Regions from separate parts of the Homo sapiens genome. Here region 2 is linked to region 1. Evidence: fine-mapped expression QTL. A gene starts in region 1. The other region holds a variant in brackets. All regions are shown on one strand. Distances are from middle to middle.

Region 1 (5,370 bases):
TCCCAGGTAGCTGAGACTACAGGCGCCCGCCACCATGCCTGGCTAATTTTTTGTATTTTTAGTAGAGATGTCACCATGTTAGCCAGCATGGTCTCCATCTCCTGACCTCCTGATCCGTCTGCCTTGGCCTCCCAAAGTGCTGGGATTACAGGCGTGAGCCACCATGCCCAGCCCTATAGATGATCAACTTATACCTTAGTTATAAGGTGGTGGTGGCAGGGCTGATAACAGGATGACCAACCCGAAACATGAACGTACCCATTTTTACAGTTGTGCCTGGGGTTCCTACTCATACTTTATCAGTTCAAACAACCACTAATAAGTGACACTGCTCTGCAGTCTTAACATTCATGGCCACCATATGCCTCAATGTTTCTGGGTCAACTTTAGTTTCAAACATTATCTCTACTGTCACAGGTCCACATGCCAAACTATGAGTCCAGTTTGGGGTTCAGAACATATAGTCTCTATAGTTCTGCCTTTTCTCGGTGCTCAGAGTCTAATATCATTGGAGAAGAGGACGATTTTTGCCTGATTAAACTGAGGGAGGGGGATAAGAAAGGGAACCAAAGACAATGCTAAATAATGTATTTTGGTTCAATTTTCCAAAAAGTGAAGCTCTGCTTATCACAATGATTGGTCCACTCTGGTCCACCCAGATACCTGGATTCCTCATTTATGTAGCAGCAGTCTACTTCGTGGGCGCTGCCTATTTTGAAGATGTTATTTTGCACTCCCTTCTGGAGCATGTGATAATACCTCTACCTTTGAGAAATACAAAAGATGTAGGTTCTCTGCAGTCGAGAATTAAATGAACGTAAATAAAATGAATAGACAAGGCAGAAGCCTCCATGTCAGCTCCCTCTGCCTTCAGATCCTTCTAAGGGATGTGGGTTCTCGGGAGGGGAAATACACAACACGATACAACAGACATTTGACGACCCTTTAGAGGCTGGTTGTGAATCTGACTACCGGAGGGCTTAAAATATGGCAGTAAGAAGAAAGGAGCTCATGGGACCCTGAAGGGAAACGAGAGCGGGGAATTTGTCTCTTTCATCCACAGTCGTTTCAAAGCATGACACTTGCGGTAACAAAATTGCATTGCGAAAGTACTAGTGTGTTATTATCTCCTCTTCAAGACAGGGACACGTAGACAGGGAATGGCCTCTTCCAATACCAACTTCCAAGTAGCACTGCTGATCCTCCACTGAACGATGGGGGAAAAGCTAGCCTGCTTCTGCGACCTTGCATGAAAATGGAGAAAATTCTTGGTTTCAAAATCTTCTCCTGGCTTGAACCGAAAGTTAAAAAGGGACTTTTCGAATTGCACATTGCGCCTGACCTTACCTACCACTAATGAATAATGGATATCGAGGAGCCGTGGAATGGAGGATCACGGCGGCGTACGGAGCACCGGGGAGGAATCGTGGGGTGCGTAGGCGCCGGAGCGCCCGGGTTCGGCCCGGACCGAAGGCTTGCGCGGTGAAGGTGTGGTGTCTGTGCTCCGGGGAAAGGGCTGTCTCCCCGGGGGACTGTTTCGCAGCGAGGCTTGTTTTGCTCGCAGCTGGGCGCTCCCTGGGGAGCGACTGAGCGCAAGGGCGGGCCGGGAGGCGCGAGGCGAGCACGATGCTCCAGGGCCCCAAGGACTCGTGTGCGTGTGCGTGTGCAAAGTGGGGCGGTGCAGGGCGTGTGCACGGCACGGGCGAGACGCGCGCCGGTGCGGGCGCCGGGCGCCGCCGGGCGCAATTACAGCATAAAGCCCGGGCGCCGCGGGGCGCTGGCCCGGAGAACCCACCGGACGCGCAGAACCGGATCGGCACCCCTCCCGCCAGCACCCTAACGCGGAGCCACAGCGCCCAGGGACCGGAGGGCAGGCGGCGGCGGTAAAGGACACCACGCAAGTCTCCACGTAACCCCCCCGAGCAGTGCAAGCTCCCAGGACTGGCGCGCGTCCCGGCCACTCGGAGCGCGCACCGCTCGCACCCCGGCGCGCTCCCCGCGCGGTGCAGGGAACCACAGCGCGGGCGGGTATTAAGGGGAAAGGAGGAGGCGTGGCCTGGCCGAGGAGCCAATGGGCCGGGAGGGGCGCGCGGGGGAGGAGCTCAGGTGCAGAGTGCCGATTGGCCAGTTCGCCCTCCGGTATGCAGATACGGTGGGAGTCACGTGCTAGGGGCCGGGACGACTTCCTGTTGGAGGCCAACGCGGGGCGGGGAAGGGGGCGCGAGCGCCCCGTCTGGCTGAAGCGGGGGGAGGGGGGTTCTTGTCAGTTAGAGCAACAAGATGGCCGCGGTGGCAGCTCCGCACCTCAGCGCGACGGCCCCGGGAGCCGTAGCCGCCGCCGCCGGCCCCGCCGCCGCGCAGTCTTGAGCGCCGCCCGGGCCGCCCCCTGACAGGGCAGTCCCAGCGCCCGCCGCGCTCCCGCCGCCGTCACCGTCGCAGTAGCCGCGGGCCCGCCCGAGCCGGAGGCGGAGGGAGCGGAGCGGCCCCGCGCCCAGCCGTCCGCAGCTGCCACCGCCGCCGCCGCCGCCGCCTAGGACCCGGACCCCGCCGGAGCCGCATCCCGCCGGGCGTGAGGAGGAGGACGCGTCGCGGCGTTGCCGGGGCCGGACCTGGACCTGCCGGGACGCGCCGCCGCCCACTCGCCCGCGCCGCCGCCGCAGCCGCCGCCGCCGCCCGCGCCGGGACCTGAGTCCGTGGCGCCGGCGCTGAGCGGGCCCCCGCCGCCCGCGCACTCCCGAGGCCCTCGGGCGGTTGTTCGTGCCGCCGCCGCCGCCAGGCCCGCGCCACCGGAGCCCCGCGGAGCCGCCGCCGCCGCCGGGGACGGAGCCCAGGTGAGCGCGGCAGTCCGCCCGCTCCTCGCCGCAGCCGCAACTTTGCCGGGAGGTTCGCGGGCCCTTTGTTCGGCCGAGCCGAGCCGGGGCGGGCGCTGGCCCCTAGCGACCCGCGTGCGGCGCCAGGCCCCGGGCCGGCCGGGTTTGAGGGGAGCGGCGGGAAGCGGCCGGGGCCGGGGCGCGTGTGTGCTAGTGTGAGACGGGGCTGTGCAGACGCCCGGTGTGCATCACAATCAAACGGGAGTGGAATGGAGGGCTGAAGATGGATGTGCCCCCTCCCTTTTAAAACTCATGCAGCGGTGAAATTCGGTCCTTTCCGGGCAGCCCCCCGCAGATTTTGCACTGGTGATGGCAGGCGCGAACCCGCCGTGTTTTGGTGCAGGAGCCCGGTGCCGTTGTTTGGGGGAAGAGAAAAACCCGGGGCGTGCTGCGGGTGGGCGGAGAAGGACCCCTGGGCGCTCTGCGGCTCTGAAATCAGGTGGATTTTCTAACGGTGCTGCGGACTGCGGAGTAATGCGTATGAGGAAAACGAGCCGTACAACATCTGTCCTGTTATCAGATAACGTAACCCGAGCGCCTGGTTGCCGCCTCTGCTTTAAGCGGTGCCTCCTTTGCACCTTTACCTTGAGGACGAGATTTAATTAATTGATTCGTAGCTATGAAAATGTGCAGATGTGGATGTGGGGGTTCCCTGCCTGTTAACCTGGGGAAGAAATAACTGGCAAGCATGTTACACGGAGCTTTGGGGATCTTAGCAAAAATGAAGGCTTGCTGCTTGGATGTTGTGCCGGGAGGTAGGGGAGGAGGAGCCGCTAGATCGTGGCTGCACCTATTGCATTCGAAGGCATTTGACGGTATTGGTGATTCTGCACGTAATTAGTGGAGTTGTCTCAAACCTTTGCCTCCGCCAAATGAAACCTCCATTTGAGTGGTCCGCTCGGTTATTTCTAGGCGTGAACTGCGGATTCTAAACTCAAAATGGTGCTCTGTAGATGTCCAACTTCAGCGTCTTTAAGGAGTTGCAAGTTGGAGCCTTCTGACTGGGTTAATCCATTGTGTAGCCGAGGTTCGGTTTTTCTCGAGTGTCTGGTGTTCACGTTGACGTACTTCGGCCAGTACAAGGTAGCCAATTTATGGTGATCGCTGTGAGAGCCTCGTACGTCCCTGAATGTAATTTGAGCCTGCATAAGGCCTACTTTATGCAAGTGATTTCCTGCAGTTGGAATTGAATAACTATGCGAATGAGTTGAGACCCTGGAAACCTGGCTTGAGTGATTTCAGAGGACAGTGGTAGCTGGTTTGAAATGTGTAGGGGGTGTTGGCAATGATATTCATAGATTCCGGATTTCCTTCAGTACTGTATGAAAGAATAAATGATAAAACTTAGCCCCAGGCCAGATGAACTTGGTTAGTAGAGGGCACCTTGAAGAAATTTACATTGTTCCAGAACAGCAGAGGTGGCAATGGTCTTTGAGCATGTTTCACTGTAGCACCCCTAGGATGCTTTGTTGGGGGAAATAATGCAAAACAGGGTTTTTAAAATGACTAGTTCAGTTGTCGGAATTAATTTTGTGTGTATTAATAGAACAAAGTAATGATGTGAACAGTTGTAACTTTACCTATACTGAAAGTTTTTTTTCTACAGAAAGTTTTTAATATTTATTTTCATAAGAATAGACATTCTTGGAAGCTGTTTTTCATACAGATTTCTCATGACCTGACCATAGGCATAGTCAGGCCGTGAGAAATTGATAGCTCAGAAAACGGTAATAGTAAACACACACACACACTCGTTTTTATTATAAGGATCTGATTTTAAAAGCTTGTTTGTAACTCTTCTGTGCTTCTTGTCCAAAACAAAGACCTTGCTGACCTTACCTCGGTTTTACTTTTTTTTTTTTTTTTTGAGACAGTTTCGTTCTTGTTGCCCAGGCTGGAGTGCAATGGCACGATCTCGGGTCACTGCAACCTCCGCCTCCCGGGTTCAAGCGATTCTCTTGCCTCACCCTCCCGAGTAGCAGGGATTACAGGTGCCCGCCGCCACGCCCGGCTAATTTTTGTATTTTTAGTAGAGACGGGGTTTTGCCATGTTGGCCAGGCTGGTCTCGAACTCCTGACTTCAGGTGATCCGCCTGTCTCGGCCTCCCAAAGTGCTGGGATTACAGGCGTGAGCCACCACGCTCGGCCGGTTTTACTTTTAAGGTATGAAATTAAATACGGTTGATACTGAGACTGTCTGTCATAAGGTTTAATCTTAACAATTTCATTTCGGATTCTGCCATTTAAATATTCTGGTAGTAACCTGGAGTATATGTAAGTGTTGGTTTTAGATTTTCGTCCTTCGTGTTTATTGCGGGGGGCGAGGGTGGGTTTCGAGTAGCATATGTCTTAACACTAACATCATTTCGAAACAGGTTTACATTTATATTTAGTTGGCTTAGGAACTTTGGAGTAAATAGTTGCCTTTAGAATGCTGATTGTGAAGGTAGAGTGGAATGAACTGTTTCGTTTGACATTCGGTGATTAAAAAATAACTAAG
Region 2 (5,370 bases), 170 kb before region 1:
ATAAAGTACTAAGAATTTCAGATCCAGGTGCAGTGGCTCACGGCTATAATCCCAGCACTTTGGGAGACCAAGACAGGAGGATCACCTGAGGTCAGGAGTTCAAGACCAGCCTGGCCGACATGTTGAAACCCCATCTTTAAAAAAATACAAAAATAAGCCAGGCATGATAATGGGTGCCTGTAATCCCAACTACTCAGGTGGCTGAGGCAGGAGAATCGCTTGAACCAGGGAGGCGGAGGTTACGGTGAGCCAAGATTGCACCATTGCACTCCAGCCTGGGCAACAGAAGGAGACTCTGTCTCAAACAAAAAAACAAAAAAACAAAAAAATTAAAAAAAAAGAAAAACTTCCGGACAGCAGTCGTTCTTGCTAAGAATTTCTAGAGTAGGAAGCAAGGGTCTTGCTCCCTGCCCACTGTGCAAATGAAAGAATCAAGTACAAGGAGTGAGAAAGACAGCCTAATGTTTCCTGGACATGGTGGCTGGGGACTGGCTGGAAGTTGGGGAGGGGACCCCCCCCAGCCTAGGTAGGCCCAGGTTCCTGCAGCCACAGCCTTGATGGTGATGGTCCAGGGAGAATGGCTGAGGGTGCCCACCTGGCAGGACCACAACTGTGATGAGTGAAATCAGCACGAGAAGGACTCTGGCACCCAGTTTGGGGGTGGGCAGGCAGGATGAGGCAGTGATGGACACGCGCAGCCCCCACCACACCTGCCTTCATCAGGGGCCTCCGGGTGCCCGGACGGATGCTGGTGACCATGGCAAGGGAGGGCTCAACGGTGCTGCCACAGCGGTGGTGCCTCTCGAGAGGCAGCTGGTTAGAAGTGAGAACGCAGTGTCTTCCGCCTCTCCACACCTTCTCAAGGAGGTGATTTCCCAGCCACCCGCGAGCAGCCGAGCATCCTCATTCAGCTCCTCAGGTGTCAGGGCACTGCTCTTGTTTACACTGTCATCGCCCTTGCACTGAACAGCAGAGGCGTGGACTCCTTTTGGCTGATCTTTGCTCTGAGCACCCAGCGCTATGCCAAGGATGGGGAGCCCCATCCAGAGCCCAGGCACCATCTCCAAGCAGATGGAGGAGCTAGGAACAGCTAGGAGGGTCTGTTACCAAAACAAAACTGGCTCCACTCACCCAGGTTGGTAAAGCCAAATACCCACACTGAGGTTTGCAGCAGGAGAAAGGAGGGCGTTTATTTGCCAGGTGCCAAGCAAGGAGAATCAGGCAGCTCACACTTAAGACCCAACATCCTCAATGGCTCACGAGCAACGGTTTTGTTTTTTCTTGTTGGTGGTTTCTTTTCTTGTTGTGTCTCACTCTGTCACCCAGGCTGGAGTTCAGTGGTGAGATCACGGTGCACTGCAACTTCTGCCTCTTGGGTTAAAGCAATTCTCCTGCCTCAGCCTCCTAAGTAGCTCAGACTACAGGCATGCACCACCATGCCTAGCTAATTTTTGTATTTTTTATAGAGTTGGGGTTTGGCCTTGTTGGCCAGGCTGATCTCAAACTCCTGACCTCAGTTGATCCGCCCACCTGGGCTTCCCAGAGTGCTGGGATTACAGGCATGAGCCACCACACCCGGCCACAAGCAAGGGTTTTCAAAGGCGGGAGTATATTTCAGGAAAGCAGAAGTTTCAGGCAAAATCGTTAATCAGTACATGAACATTATACATTGGTTTGGCCTCAAAAGGTGGGATATCTTGAAGTGAGGGGGCTTACAGGACCAGACGGGCAGAGAAAAGTCTCATCCGTCCCCCAACCCCCATCCTCAGAACTGGCCTGGCTTGCAAGGAGGGGATTTTGTCTCCATTTCACAGATATTAAGGAAATTGGGTGCAGAAACTTTCAAGAGCCTGCCCAGGATTCACAGAGTGAGAAGCCAGGGCAAAGCCAGAATTTAGACCTAGTGCTGTGTGGACTCACCCTTCCCACAGGAACATCCTGCTTCAGAACTGAACACCTGCAACTCAGCGTGGCTCACTCGATCCCAGCTCTAGGGGGTGACCCGGCCACCCACACCACTCTCTCCCCACCCCACACCATGGGTTCTGGGCTGCCTCACCCTCCCTCATTGCCTCCTGCGTGCACAGAACATCCTTTCCATGGGGGACATGCATCAGGAGTAGAGAAGGCTGGGCAGGGACATGGTGTGGGATCGCATGCGGCTGATATTCCTGTTAAATAAATACATTTTGCTAATTGGATTACTCAGACAGTATAATATACTACTGGATTTCCAACATGATGCTAATAAATTGTGTGAAGAACTTAATCATGTTAGCGTCCTGAAAGCTTATAAGAGATGAAATGAGAAAATCAGGCAACGTTGACACCCAGGGCCTCCTAAGGCTCTCAGGCTCCTGGAGCTTCCGTGAGCTCCCTTCGCCGGGCTCTCTGCAACAGAAGCTGCCGCTGGGCATGTGGGGTGCGTGTGGGGGTGTCAAGGGGAGGGAAGAAGGAGGTATTCAGCCAGAGAATGAGAGTCACTGTGCCAGGGACTCGAGGACCTGTCCCTGGGCCAGGGGAGAGAAGCTGGCCGAGCAAGGTTCCCAGCAGGTGAAGCCACCCTGGCCCTCACACTCCTCTCATCAGCTGAAGGCCCAGCGGGTGCAGGTGGGCAGCACAGGGCCAGGCGGCCTGTGGTTCTGTGAACCCAAAATATCTGAGACAGTCTCAGTTAATTTAGGAAGTTTATTTTGCCAAGGTTGAGGACGTGCGCCCATGACACAGCCTCAGGAGGTCCTGATGACATGTGCCCAAGGTGGTCAGGGCACAGCTCGGTTTTATACACTTTAGGGAGACAAGAGACATCAATCAACATATGTAAGATGAACATTGGTTCTGTCCCGGAAAGGCAGGACAACTGGAAGCAGGGAGAGGGCTTCCGCTCATAGGTAGAGAGGAGACAA[A/G]TGGTAGCATTCTTTTGAGTTTCTGATGAGCCTCTCCAAAGGAGGCAATGCATGTATCTCAGAGAGCAAAGGGGGGACTTTGAATAGAACGGGAAGCAGGTTTGCCCTAAGCAGTTCCCAGCCTGACTTTCCCTTTAGTTCAGTGATTTTGAGGCCCCAAGATTTATTTTCCTTTCACAGTTCCCTCAAGGGTCTGTGCAAAAAGCATCAGGACCCTACCCACTCCCCTTGCTGCCAATGTCTTTCCAAAAGTGTTTCCACCCACATCTCCCTTCACACAGGGAACCACTGTGGGCTGAAGGTGGCCAAGAAGTTGTGGGAAGCACCTGCGGTTTTGAGGAGGGAAGGGCAGGGACTGAGCCAGGTGGCCGGAAGACAAGGCCAGGAGAGCCTCCATTAGTCCCTGAGAACTCCAGAGAGAGGTGGCTTCCCTCCTTGCCTTCCAGACTGGAAATCTGGGTGGTTGATGTTTAATTAACATTGGTATTGACTTGAAAAGCGAAGACCAGAATTTAAGAGCTCATTACCCCTCTTGCCTTCATATCTTGGCTCCTGGCTACCCAGGAGGGGATGAGGGATGAATGAGGGTCTGTGCTGCAGAGGCAATGAGACTTGCCGTCTCACCAAGCAAGCAAGTGCATAGCACGGGACAGGCCATTAGAACACCACGCACATGCACGTATGCACACTCACACCCAGGCACACTCACATGCATGCACACTCACACGCACACATGCACACACCTGAACTCAGCCCCCAAACAGGAGCACTCTTCAATGGCCATCATTAAAATAATAACTGGCTTCTGCAGCAGCTTCCCAGGTATTAATGCAAATGTTTTTCTAACTCTCCAGGTTCAAGAGCAACAGCTTACACAAGTCTAATTAGCATAACAAAATCCAGCCAGGAAGAGAAAACAAGCTCCTCTTATTTGATGCTTCCTGGTAATTAGCAAGAACAATTACTGCAGCATCCGGAATTTCCAACCCCCAAAGATGCCAGGGCCACACTTGAGCACATCAGGAATCAATTTAGAGAAGCCAAAATAAGGCCATTATGAGGGATGCTCAACCCGAGCGTGACATGTGTGTTTGCAAGCAAGCAAGCAAGCACTTCCCCGCCCACACCGCCCCTGTGCTGACCGCTGCAGCCTGCCTCCTGCCCTTCCCCGCGTCCACACACACACGCCCGTTCATACGCTCCTCGCCCAGGTCTTCGCGCATCCAGCATCCATTCATTCAGCAAATGTCAGCGACTGGACCTGCTGCTTTGTTCAGAAGGTGCAAAGGTGAGAAAGGCAAGGTCCTTGCACCCAAAGGGTCTGGTTGGGTGTGTTTAACCTGCATTTCATGCTGCCTTCTGTGTGCTGGGCCCGGTGGTGCAGTGCAGAGATCAGAACAAGACAGCACCCATCACCAAGAATGTCACGCCCATGAGGTATTGGATGCCTTCTAGGTGGTGAAGCCCGTGCCTGGCTCAAAGGGCACACAGAAGAGAGAGGGCCTCTCTCGTCCTGGGGTGGGTGGGTCATCAGAGACTTCATGAACCAGGTGACTGCAGAGCTGGGTTTGAGGATGAAAAGAAGTTGGTCATAGTGGGTGGACATAGGTCAGAAGAACAGAAAGAGTGCTTAGGTAGGCACTGTGGGATAAAGCCACAAAGGCAAGAAAAGGAGCGGGTGCTCAGGGACCTCGCAGCAGAGTGCAGAGGAGTGAAGGAAGGAGCCACAGGAGATGGGCCTGAGGAAGCTGGTGGCTGAAGGTCGTAGCAGGTTTCAGGGGCTGGGCCATGGATCGAGCAAGAGGGAATCAGGGTTCTGGTGCGGTGGCTCATGCCTGTAATCCCAGCACTTTGGGAGGCCGAGGCAGGAGGATCACTTGAAGTCAGGAGTTCAAGACCAGCCTGGCAAACATGGTGAAACCCCTTCTCTACTAAAAATACAAAAATTAGCTGGGTGTGGTGGCACGCACCTGTAGTCCCAGCTACTCTGGAGGCTGAGGCAGGAGAATCCTTGAACCTGGGAAACGGAGGTTGCAGTGAGCTGAGATCGCGCCATTGCACTCCAGCCTCAGAGTGAGAGTCTGTCTCAAAAAAAAAAAAAAGAGGGAGTCGGGAAAGGAGAGAAGACTGTATGGAAGAGGCACGGTCAGTGTCGGTGGCTGGAGAGGATGCCACTGTCCCATCCAGGTGGGGTGGACAGTCTCCTACCCCCAGGCCAAGAGGGTAGGCATGGATCCAAACGGGAAATGACAGATGCTGGACTCCCCGGGAGAGAAATCCTGACTGCCTGCATGTCAGGCAGAAGGGAGAGGGAGGAGATGTCCAGAATGACCACGTGGATGTGGGGAGGAGGCTGGGGGAGCTCTGCGTCGATGGGATGGGACCGTCGAGGCCAGCTGGGAAGAGGCCCCACTCACATGACTCATTCATGTGGGTCACAGCCTTCTGTGTCCAACCTGTGTCT

Which allele goes with the higher level. Positions count from the first base shown, and alleles are read on the strand shown. Sizes are in standard deviations (SD) of each study's normalised expression.
For the expression in tibial nerve of the gene that starts at base 2,266 in region 1, G is the high allele of the variant in region 2 and A is the other (small effect, 0.25 SD a copy in GTEx).

Evidence for each region. PIP is the estimated chance that this variant, and not a neighbour inherited with it, causes the effect. A credible set is the group of variants that fine-mapping cannot tell apart.
Region 2: its variant is the best candidate, but not a certain one, in a credible set for the expression of TNRC6C in tibial nerve (GTEx, PIP 0.89).

The regions. Positions count from the first base shown.
Region 1 is chr17:77,956,438-77,961,807 of GRCh38, forward strand. TNRC6C (trinucleotide repeat containing adaptor 6C) reads left to right here and starts at 2,266. Exons shown (of 23, transcript NM_001142640.2): 1 at 2,266-2,831. RefSeq lists silencers at 1,881-1,930, 1,951-2,410 and enhancers at 2,083-2,642, 2,643-3,201.
Region 2 is chr17:77,783,352-77,788,721 of GRCh38, forward strand. No RefSeq gene overlaps it. Among named protein-coding and RNA genes, the nearest start is that of LINC01987, 57 kb to the left of the region's middle. The variant A/G (reference allele first, on the strand shown) is at 2,907.